Homo sapiens: one gene and its partners. The protein of the gene in region 2 interacts with the protein of the main gene of each other region in a pairwise test. Each region holds a gene or a part of one and is shown on either strand. Other genes may lie near its edges. The genes, in order: CD53, ST6GAL2 and TIMMDC1.

The links.
Region 1: the proteins of ST6GAL2 (region 2) and CD53 interact in binary tests that used the Homo sapiens proteins (3 or more experiments, as listed by UniProt).
Region 3: the proteins of ST6GAL2 (region 2) and TIMMDC1 interact in binary tests that used the Homo sapiens proteins (3 or more experiments, as listed by UniProt).

The regions. Positions count from the first base shown.
Region 1 is NC_000001.11:110,871,167-110,874,766, reverse strand, and holds the start of CD53 (leukocyte surface antigen CD53), read right to left. Parts: upstream 1,620-3,600; 5' UTR 1,519-1,619; intron 1-1,518. UniProt on the Homo sapiens protein: Structural component of specialized membrane microdomains known as tetraspanin-enriched microdomains (TERMs), which act as platforms for receptor clustering and signaling.
Region 2 is NC_000002.12:106,884,696-106,888,525, forward strand, and holds the start of ST6GAL2 (beta-galactoside alpha-2,6-sialyltransferase 2), read right to left. Parts: upstream 1,473-3,830; 5' UTR 1,398-1,472; exon of another isoform or gene 1,172-1,397; intron 542-1,171; exon of another isoform or gene 480-541; intron 1-479. UniProt on the Homo sapiens protein: Transfers sialic acid from the donor of substrate CMP-sialic acid to galactose containing acceptor substrates.
Region 3 is NC_000003.12:119,522,317-119,525,590, reverse strand, and holds the end of TIMMDC1 (complex I assembly factor TIMMDC1, mitochondrial isoform 1 precursor), read right to left. Parts: intron 1,986-3,274; coding exon 1,835-1,985; 3' UTR 501-1,834; downstream 1-500.

The DNA of each region.
Region 1 (3,600 bases), on a different chromosome or scaffold from region 2:
TGAGGTCACTTAGGTGGTGGTAACCATAGCTGTGAAGGCATGAACTTGGAATCATTCCTCATGAATATAAAGGTACCCAATCCTTTCATTTAAAAATTAAGTGTTCTTAACTGGCCCACACAGGAAACATCACAGGAAATAATGTTTCAGTTCAGTCTTTGCTCCCATTCAACCACAATTTCAAAATAGTACAGATTCTCCTCAAGATTGAGAAAGCAAAACCTCTTTGTTTGTCCAGCAGCTGGGAGTTTGCTTTTTCTCAGCTTTCTTCCAAAGCACACGCATAGTATGATATCTCTTATCTCCCATGGGAGTTCCTTAAGAGTAGGACTGTTTGCTAGACAAATATTCTCCTTCTACCTTTTCATCTCCCTCCCCCACAATTCCCAAAGCACAGTGCCTGGCCTCAGGAGGCACCTACCACTTGATTATTAAGTGAATTTATTTAAAAGACTGCTTTTTATTTTTTAATACAAGGCTCAATAAACTCTGAGGTGTTTTGGGAATCCAGAGCCCTCTCCCCGTCCCCACCCCTCTTGGAAATCTAGAGCCCTCTGCCCTGTTCCCAATCCTCATACTTAGATGGGTGGGTGTAATCAAAGAGAACTTTCTCCTTTCTGCTCCAGGGCATAATCAAGTGAAATTCTCACAGGTCTTGGAAGAAGAAAGCTCTTACATAGAGTTTCCGATGGTGGTCACAGAGAGTCAGGACCGAAGCTCTGCTAACACTTTGCTGAGTCCATGCAACCTCAGTCATTAGTTACAGCACATGATTGGAAATTACTGCAGTATCAAGTTTTGGGGATTGCATTTTATACGTGCATTTCATGTGACATTTATCAGTGGTCATGTTTTGTACACCAAGGATAATTTGGGGAAATGCTGAGGATCCCAATGTGCTTCCTGCTCCTTAAAAGCCAACAATCTATGCATCCTTTAGAGATGTCTAGCTTTCACCTTTTAAAATACAGTTACTGAGCACATCCTGGTGTTTTGATTTTTAGCCACCTTTCTATTTAGTGGCTTTGAAGAACCACAGTGGGAGTCACTAAATTTACTTTTGAAATTTTCTCAAATGAAAAAGAACTGTGTCTTCTAGCTGTCTTTCTAAAGACAGCTCTGGCTGTGGGTTCTTTCCTCACTTTAAAATCACAAGACCAATTTTCTGAAGACCAGAGCACATAGGAAATCTCCCCAATGTCATCTCGCATAGAAAGCTCCAGGCATCAGGAATTACTACACAGAGTAATTCAAGCTCTGAAGCAATTAAGGCATGTGAATGCCTCGACTCAGAGATTTAGATAATGGGAACCTGATTAAGTAAAAGTATTTCTGGCCTGATTGCCTTTGGGGATGTTACTAGGATCTTGCTAATCTGTTTTACTTTGTGCACTAAATATTTGTGAAAGAGAAGTTGCCGGAGATTTTATGGTTACTAGAGAGGTATATGGAGACCCCTAAGAATACGCCCTACCCCACATTAGACAGCAAGCCAAGTTAAAACGTCATCAACCTTACCTTTTCCAGGCACCGTTCCTCAGTCCTTTCGGCAGAATTTAGTGATTATCCTTGAGGTGGCCGAGACAAGGCTGGTAACACAGATATCCGGGGCTATTTGTGTAAAAGGAGAAGTGAAGGGTGAAAAAATATGATCATGCTGTGACGACAGGAAGCCCAGATGAGAAGAAGGAGGAAGTGAGGCTGAGTCCGCCCTCTTTAGTCTCAGAGATTTAGTACTTTCCCAGTGGCTTTTTAGAAGCTTCCTCTCACAGCCCACCCTAAACTAGTTTTGTGAAACAAAAGAAAACTTCAAAACCAAGTTGGTTCAGGCACAGATCTGTGAGCAGTGGTGGATTCTAGGGTAATTTGGCAATGATTTTTGCTTAGAAAAGGACAGTGCTTCTCAATCAAGGTGGCATCTCAGAATTAACTGTGTATTTGTTCAAAAAGAAGTATGCCTGGCCCCACCACCAGTTTCCCATTCAGGTAGACAGACTGGAGGGGAACACAGGAACCAATATTTCTAAACATTTTCTAGGCCCGAGACTTTGGAATGTCTTTCTGAAGATTCTCTGCCCCCTCCTCATACTCCCTCTGTCTGGCTTCAGCCAGTCTCTAGACTTGAATTGGACACCATTTGCAGACTTCTCTGTCTCGAGAGCAAGACTGTCTTAAGGTGAGTCCCCAAGGCATAATCCCAGGGGCACTGGTAGAAATGATTTGGTTAGTACAGGAAACACCACATTTGGAGCCAAAGATCTGAGTTTCAGTTCCAGCTTTATCTCTTTTAGCTGTGAGATCTTGAGCAAGTCTCAATCTGTCAGCCTCAGTTTATTAATGGTAACACCTAATAATAATCCTACTGGTTACTGTTACATCCTTATTTATATACAAGAAAACAGGCGCTCAAAGAGGTTAGAAAATTTGCCCAAGCTCATACAACTAAGACATGTCAGAGGTAGGATTAAAATTCAAGGTCACAGAGAAGGCCTTTTGAGAAACACTGTGATCAATATATTTTGAAAAATGTGTTTCTGGTTTCACTATGCTGCATCACTGGAATTTTCTTAGATTGGGTCAAAGGAGTATGTGACAACCCAAATGTATCACTAGCTAACTATGAAACTTGGAAGCAATCACTGGGCCCCAATGTTTTCATCTTATAAATGAACAGATAGATGCACTCTGCGGTGCTGACTTGCGGGCATGCCTCTGGGAAAGCTAGCTGTCTCCCGCTTCCTTCACCCTGAGACATTCAGATCCAGAGTAATCTCCAGCCAGGGCTGTCTTGTGGGGAAAACTGAATTAAATGAAGGTAAAAAGGTCTTTACTGCAGAACTTGTCAGTCCTTAATATTCTCTAAGCAGGGGAAATAATATATAGATTTCTCCAAACTTATCTGAGCATGGAACTGTGTGGTGTGTGTGTGTGTGTGTGTGTGTGTGTGTGTGTAGTTTCTCTTGGGGAACAATTTTTCAGTGTAACTACACTTTAGGGAATGCTATTAAAAAGTCTCTGCACCTCGGCTGGAATCACTGACCCTCACTCAGAGCTGCTGCCATGCTTACAGGTCCCTGAAGTGGTGGGGCTGAGGAGAGGCTTCTGGCTGAACTCATATTTTCCTAATTATCTCACCCATTCTGATGGCTCTAATTACTATCTGTCTGTTCCAAAGATTCACAAATCTATATAGATGCCATGATCTCTCCTTTGAGCTCCACTCTCTCCCAGGCACCTCAAATCCAATATCCAACTTCAGTTTGATTAACTTGGCATCCCCACACTCAAGCCTGCTCCTCCCACCATGTCCACCATCCAGGAAAGGCCTGACTGGCCTTTCAGCCACGTTCATGAGAAACCAGGTGTCCTCTTAAGCTACTCTCTCTCCCACACCACCACCTATTATCAGCCACCAAGTCCTGTCAGTTATGCTTTTGCCTAAATATTTCTCAAACCAGACCACCTCTCTCCAACCCCATAGAAATTACATTAGTCTTTATCTTTTACCTGTGTTACAGGATCCCAGTGTCCTTCAAGACCACCTTGGATGTTTCTTCAGTCTGTCCTCAGGAAGAAGGGAGGAGAGCCTTCTAAAATGCA
Region 2 (3,830 bases):
TTAGACTTTCATCAGTTTTGAGCACAATATCCATTCACCTTTGCCAACAGTTTCTTTTAATGCATTAGTACAAAATTCCTCAAGTGGTATATAAAAATTTTGGTTGTCAGTTCCAGAAAAATAATGGGGGAAGGAGAGTGGGTAAAAACAGGTTCAAGGCCACACATCAGTTTTCCTTTTAAAAAAAGTTTTAACCCTAAATTTGCAGCGCATATATATATATATATATATATATATATACATACACACACACACATATATACATATGTGTATGTATATACATATACATCATATATATATAGCACTTCACTTTATTGGAATTCTTCCTTGGTCATAAATTATATTTCAAGTTGGCAAAAAATGTTGATCAGAATTTCAAAAAAGGGAAGCATCAAAGTAACCAGCATGGGGTTTTTCAAGTGTGCAGAAAGTTCTCTAAATACAAAATGTGCTTCCAGCCCACCAAAGACCCCCCTCACCCAAGCAGGCAGTCCTCGGCGAGGAGGGTCAGCATGCCCCTTTATGGTCAGAACGGCAGTGGTGCAAAAGACAATGATTTCAACCAAATATGGTTTGCCTCTCGCCAAATTTTTCGCATGTCCAATAAAAATAAGTTCACAAAAATCCAGCCAAGCATTACTTTCCCCCCAAAAGTGCTTCTCAGATTACAAAACAGCTTTGAAAGTTCAGCCTGACAAAACAAATATGGTACTAGGAGGAGAGACCTGGAAGGCAATCACAAAAAGTCTCATTTAAATTCCTGGAAAGCACAGCTTCTCCAAACACAGCTATTCAGCTCTTTGGAAGGCAGCACTTGCGGGAGCCATTGAGTTTAACTTCACTCAGTCCCCCAACACAGAACCGGCAAATCCGAATGAGATGGACGTCACACTCCCTACTCAAAAGAATGCATCAAATATCCACTCCGTAACACCGCGGAAAGTAAACCCAAAAGCGGAGTTTGCCGCCTGCCAACTACATAAGAATTAACACTCGGGTATTTAGGATTCTAAAGATCCCTACTACCCCAAACATTATAGCCACAGAGAACCAGAAATGAACAGAACACACTTTAACCTTTAAGAAGTGCAGTTTTGTACGGGGGTTGGCTGAAGAAAGACAAAAATCTTCACTCCCTTCCAGAGCCAAAAGAGCCAAAATAAAAGATCACCTTTACTGAGCCACAGGGGCACAACTGTATCCGCCCGTCCCCAAAGCGCAAGCCGTCCTCCCGTTCGCTTCTCCAGAATTTCCTGCTTTTCCCCAAACCACCTTCAACATTCCCCACACACGGGTCTCGCTCCTAAACACGGAGTGTAACTCCGCGCACAGCAGCGCGGAGGCTGCAGCGCCACCAAGAAAGGCGTCGCCAACCCTTACCCAGTGCCCTCCCTTACCAGCCTTCTTCCCACGCCGCGCCTCGAAGCGCACGACACCGTGGTGCTCGGTGCTCCCCCTGGCAGCGCGGCACTGGAGTCCAAGGCGTGCGTGTCACATTTTATTCCCCGGCAGCCGCTCGGGTGCGCGCGCTACGCGCTCCCACACTCACGCTGGCGCCCGCTAGAGCTGGGACCCTGGCCGGGGTCCCCGACTCACGCCGCGGAACTTGGGGGCTGCAGAAGGCGAGTGCGCGGCGGGAGTCGTCCTGCCGCAGGCTCGAGTCCTCCTCCTGCCACCGTGGGGTCTCGGAGCTGCCCCGCGCTCCCGTCCCAGGCGGCCTGCGGGATCACCTCTCCGGGGCCAGCGCTGCTCCGCGCCGGCGGCAGCTGCAAGCGCGGGCGGCGGGGCACAGCGGGTGGCTCGGCCTCAAAGCCGGCGGGAGGCTACGCTCAGCCCCGCGCTGCACGCCTCATTGTTTCGGGCAGCGCGGCGGCGGCTCCCGCGGCCAGAGGAACCGCGGCCCCGAGCCCCGGGGAGAGGCGGCGGTTCCCGGCCCACGCACCGAGGCTGCGCCGCGCCCCGCCCCCGAGCTCCGCTCGCCCCAGAGCCCCCTCCCTCTCCGCGATCCCTTTCATCCTTCCCGCTCCAGGCTCACCTAGCTGGCGGGAGCCGGGCACTGGGAAGTTGGGCTGCCCCCTCCCCGCGCCCCCGGCCCGGCAGCTCGGCCCGCCGGCGAGCGCAGGCGGGGCGCTCCCTGGCTGCGCGCGGATTTCTGCTTGTCGCGGAGAGTGACTGCAGACTTGGGCTGCGTGGGGCGGTGCGGGGCAGCACGGCTGCCTAAAAAGGCGTGTTTCTCCCCGGCCGCCGCCTCCATCCAGCCCTAGTTCTTCCGAAGGTTACCTGCACAGTACCCGCCTGGCACCGCGCCTGGACACCTCCGGGGCACTCGGGTCCCGGGCGGCGGCAGGAATGCAGGAATGCGCACAGGCTGTGGGCGGCCAGGAGGGAGTCCCGGCGCCTGCCCCGGCGGAAGTGAGTCTTTGTGTACCCTGTCCAACACCTCCCCCCGCCAGCGCGGAAGGCCGGGCTACCTGCGCGCCTGGCAGCGCCTGGCAGCCGGCTGGGTGGGGCGCAGGGGAGCGCAGCATCCTCCCCGGCTCGCTAGCTCCCTTTGTTCATCTCGCTCAACCAGGCTCCGCACTGCCGCCTGGCCCTCGCTCCCAGAGCTTCTCTAAGGATATGGGATGGACTTGGGAGCGGGCCACCTTTCATTTGGGAAGGGTAGCTCGCCAAGTCCGGTGACGGTGCTCCCTGGAGACCCCCACCTGCCCGCCCCTCCACACTGCCGGTCCCCAACCCCAAGAGGGACGGAAAGTTCTTGGGGTAGAAGCCGGCGGGACAAGTGGTTGAAGCAGCCTCCGGAGCCAGTGGGCGGCTGCGAGCTGGGCAGCTGGAGCCTGCGGGCGGGGCCGCGGGGAGGTGCCCATCGAGTGTCGGTCTGGTCGCGTGCGGAATGTCCACTTGTCACCGCGGCCCTTGCGTTTTCTCGAGACGGCGGCAGCTGGTCCTAGGACCCCAAACCGCGCCGCCCTTTGTTTGCTGGTAAATACTCTCCTGTGAACTTCAGCGTGTCTCTCCGCGCGCACTCCTGGCATTGGGTGCCCCACCCCGCTGGTTCTCTCGCGGACCCAAAGAGCTGTTCAGGTGTAGGGGAATCCCAGGTAGATGGATAATATTGCTAAGGTTGGGCCCATCTCAGGGGGACTGGTTAGTCACCCCTCACCCCACCCCACACCCTCAGTCGCTAGAAGGACACACGTTTTGGAGACAGAGATCTGCCATTAAATGTATTATTTAAAAATCCGCAAATACTTTTATTCAAGTAATTTAGACTTTTTTTTTAGGGGGGAAAAAGCAATTAACTGGCTACCCAATTCATTCAGCATTCATTAGTGCCTACCTTAGCCTGGAACTCTGAGCTAGACAGTGGGCGCCCAGAACTCCCTCAAAGAGTTTACAGAAATGTAAAACAGCACGGGAATTAAACTAAAATCGAGTGGGTATAATGCACTGTGTTCAAACAAAAGTGTGGGCCGAAAACGCTTACTCAGTATTTCCCCAATTGTATTAATTATGTCTGACACATGGAATTCTGCGGAACTGCCTGAATGAACAATGTGTTACACAGATATTTTTTAAAAAAAGAAAAATTATGGCCGGGCGCGGTGGCTCACGCCTGTAATCCCAGCACTTTGGGAGGCCGAGGCGGGTGGATCATGAGGTCAGGAGATCGAGACCATCCTGGCTAACAAGGTGAAACCCCGTCTCTACTAAAAATACAAAAAATTAGCCGGGCGCGGTGGCAGGCGCCTGTAGTCCCAGCTACTCGGGAGGCTGAGGCAGGAGAATGGCGTGAACCCGGGAAGCGGAGCTTGCAGTGAGCCGAGATT
Region 3 (3,274 bases), on a different chromosome or scaffold from region 2:
GTGACCTTGATCAAGGTGTTTTGAAATGCAGAATTCTTGAGTTCTGGAAGGGACTTTAGAGAATACCAGTGTTATTAATGACAAAGGCACTGAGGCCCAGGGAGGTGACCCGAATTATAAAGGCCAGCGCCAGAACCCAGATTTCCTAACTCTGGTGCTCTTTCCCTTTATCAGTTTGACTGTGGCCTGTTAACTGGTATATACATATATATGTCAGGCAAAGTGCTGCTGGAAGTAGAATTTGTCCAATAACAGGTCAACTTCAGAGACTATCTGATTTCCTAATGTCAGAGTAGAAGATTTTATGCTGCTGTTTACAAAAGCCCAATGTAATGCATAGGAAGTATGGCATGAACATCTTTAGGAGACTAATGGAAATATTATTGGTGTTTACCCAGTATTCCATTTTTTTCATTGTGTTCTCTATTGCTGCTCTCTCACTCCCCCATGAGGTACAGCAGAAAGGAGAACTATCCAAAACTAATTTCCTCTGACATGTAAGACGAATGATTTAGGTACGTCAAAGCAGTAGTCAAGGAGGAAAGGGATAGTCCAAAGACTTAACTGGTTCATATTGGACTGATAATCTCTTTAAATGGCTTTATGCTAGTTTGACCTCATTTGTAAAATATTTATGAGAAAGTTCTCATTTAAAATGAGATCGTTGTTTACAGTGTATGTACTAAGCAGTAAGCTATCTTCAAATGTCTAAGGTAGTAACTTTCCATAGGGCCTCCTTAGATCCCTAAGATGGCTTTTTCTCCTTGGTATTTCTGGGTCTTTCTGACATCAGCAGAGAACTGGAAAGACATAGCCAACTGCTGTTCATGTTACTCATGACTCCTTTCTCTAAAACTGCCTTCCACAATTCACTAGACCAGAAGTGGACGCAACTTAAGCTGGGATAATCACATTATCATCTGAAAATCTGGAGTTGAACAGCAAAAGAAGACAACATTTCTCAAATGCACATCTCATGGCAGCTAAGCCACATGGCTGGGATTTAAAGCCTTTAGAGCCAGCCCATGGCTTTAGCTACCTCACTATGCTGCTTCACAAACCTTGCTCCTGTGTAAAACTATATTCTCAGTGTAGGGCAGAGAGGTCTAACACCAACATAAGGTACTAGCAGTGTTTCCCGTATTGACAGGAATACTTAACTCAATAATTCTTTTCTTTTCCATTTAGTAACAGTTGTGATGACTATGTTTCTATTCTAAGTAATTCCTGTATTCTACAGCAGATACTTTGTCAGCAATACTAAGGGAAGAAACAAAGTTGAACCGTTTCTTTAATAATGCTGATCTACTTTTTGTTGAATTTGTATTTTATTTCAAGTGTCAAAGAAATCATCTTTGTTTATTTAGATGAAACCAAACACTACACATTTACACTCACACTGCTTCCAGGACCCAAGGGTTTCACAGACCATTTGCCTACCTGGTTCTTTCCTCTCCTCTTTCCAGTGATTTCTAGAATACCCTTTCAAAGGACCACATGAATATACGAACTGTAAAATTCAACTTTAATCTTTTGCGAAATGTTTTATTTACTGCTTAAAATCTAGGTGGGTGGATATATTCATGTATGCATATATTGATAGATTAATACAAACATAAGTATGTATTTAAATTTAAGGATAAGTAAAGTGAGAGTACAACAGCCCCATTCTTAGTTAAAAAGAAAAGAAAAAGACAAGAGCAAGCCACTGCCACCACAGGTACCAGCACTTAAATTTGTCAGCAGGCTGACCAAAGAGTGGCCTGTCTGTTGGCATTCATCGGACATGGCAGCTCCCTTCAGCTCTCCAGTGAGTTTCAAGTTCAGAGCACTTTCAGTCCTTGTCTTGTTTATCTATTACTGAAGGGTTTCTAGGAAGGTTTAGCAGTGCTTCAATTTTCTTAGCATCATTCTCAGGTTCATCTTCCTGTAAACTACTTTCAATTTTCTCAGGGAGGTGCTCAGTAACTTGTAGTCTGCCTTTCCTGTAATCAGATAAAAAGGATAAATCAAATACTGCTCCATTTCTTTAGTTCTTACAGATTTAAAACAAAAAGGATAGCATTTGTCTTTTCCTCCCTGCTTTGGTATAGCAATTTAGAAGCAAATACTGCTCCCTGAACTTCAAATACAGTAACTTTCTTCTCTCTCCTAACCTCACAAGCCAATTATGATTTCCACATTACCATAATGGATACCGTTGTGGTGACAGCTCTGATCCATAAGATATTCCTAGTATGCTGGGTCCTAGAGTTCTCACAGGAGTGATGTGTGGGAACTGACACACTTTGTGCTAAGGTGTGAAGGCTTGAAGTCTCGCTGTCCTCTTGCTCCCAGGGCTGGGGGAATGTAAGTACCCTGCCACTCTTAAACTCTGTGACCAGACCTTTTAGGAACTGGTCAAAGGCTATAACAATGGTAATCCAAGGTAGAGAAAAGTCAGATAGAACAAAACTATAGATTTATATTTATGAAGAGTTAAAAACTAATTTCCAAATAATAGATCAGTTCTGTTTCTAAATCAAGTATTAGTGTCTTCCTTAAGTGATTATCGGGATTAAAGTTTCTTCTCAACTCTTCACAGATTTGGTCATTTGTTCTTCTATATCTCTATAGTCAGTTTTCTACATTTTCTGCTCATTGAGGCAATTTTTTTGACTCTCAATTTGTTTGATTTTCCTGTATTATTTTCAAGCGAAGAAGTAGGCACATACAAGACACTTAAACGTTTATTAACTCTCCTTAGAAATATCTCACACACACACACACACACACACACACACACAAACACCCATACGTGTATATGCTATACAATTTTGACACTTTCATTCTGCCAAAGTATTCTTTCATTACTATGATTCAAGTTGTTTTTATCCATCTGTCTTAAAATTGATACTAATAATTGTACATATTTATGAAGTACAAAGTGATATTTTTGTACATATACAATGTGTAATGATCAAATCAGGGTAATTAGCATATGCATCACCTCAAACATTTATCATTTCATACTGCTGGGACCATTCAAATATCCTCTCTTCCAGCTACTTGAAAATATACAATAAATTATTAACTATAGTCATCCTACAGTGCCACAGAACACTAGAATTTATGCCTCCGATCTAGTTATAATTTTGTATTCATTAATCAATCCCTTAAATCTCCTCTTCTTATGCCTTTCCCTGTCCCCTCCTCAGCCTCCAGTAACCATAATTCTACTCTTTACTTCTATGAGCCCATTTTTTAGCTCCCACATGAGCAACAGAACATGCAG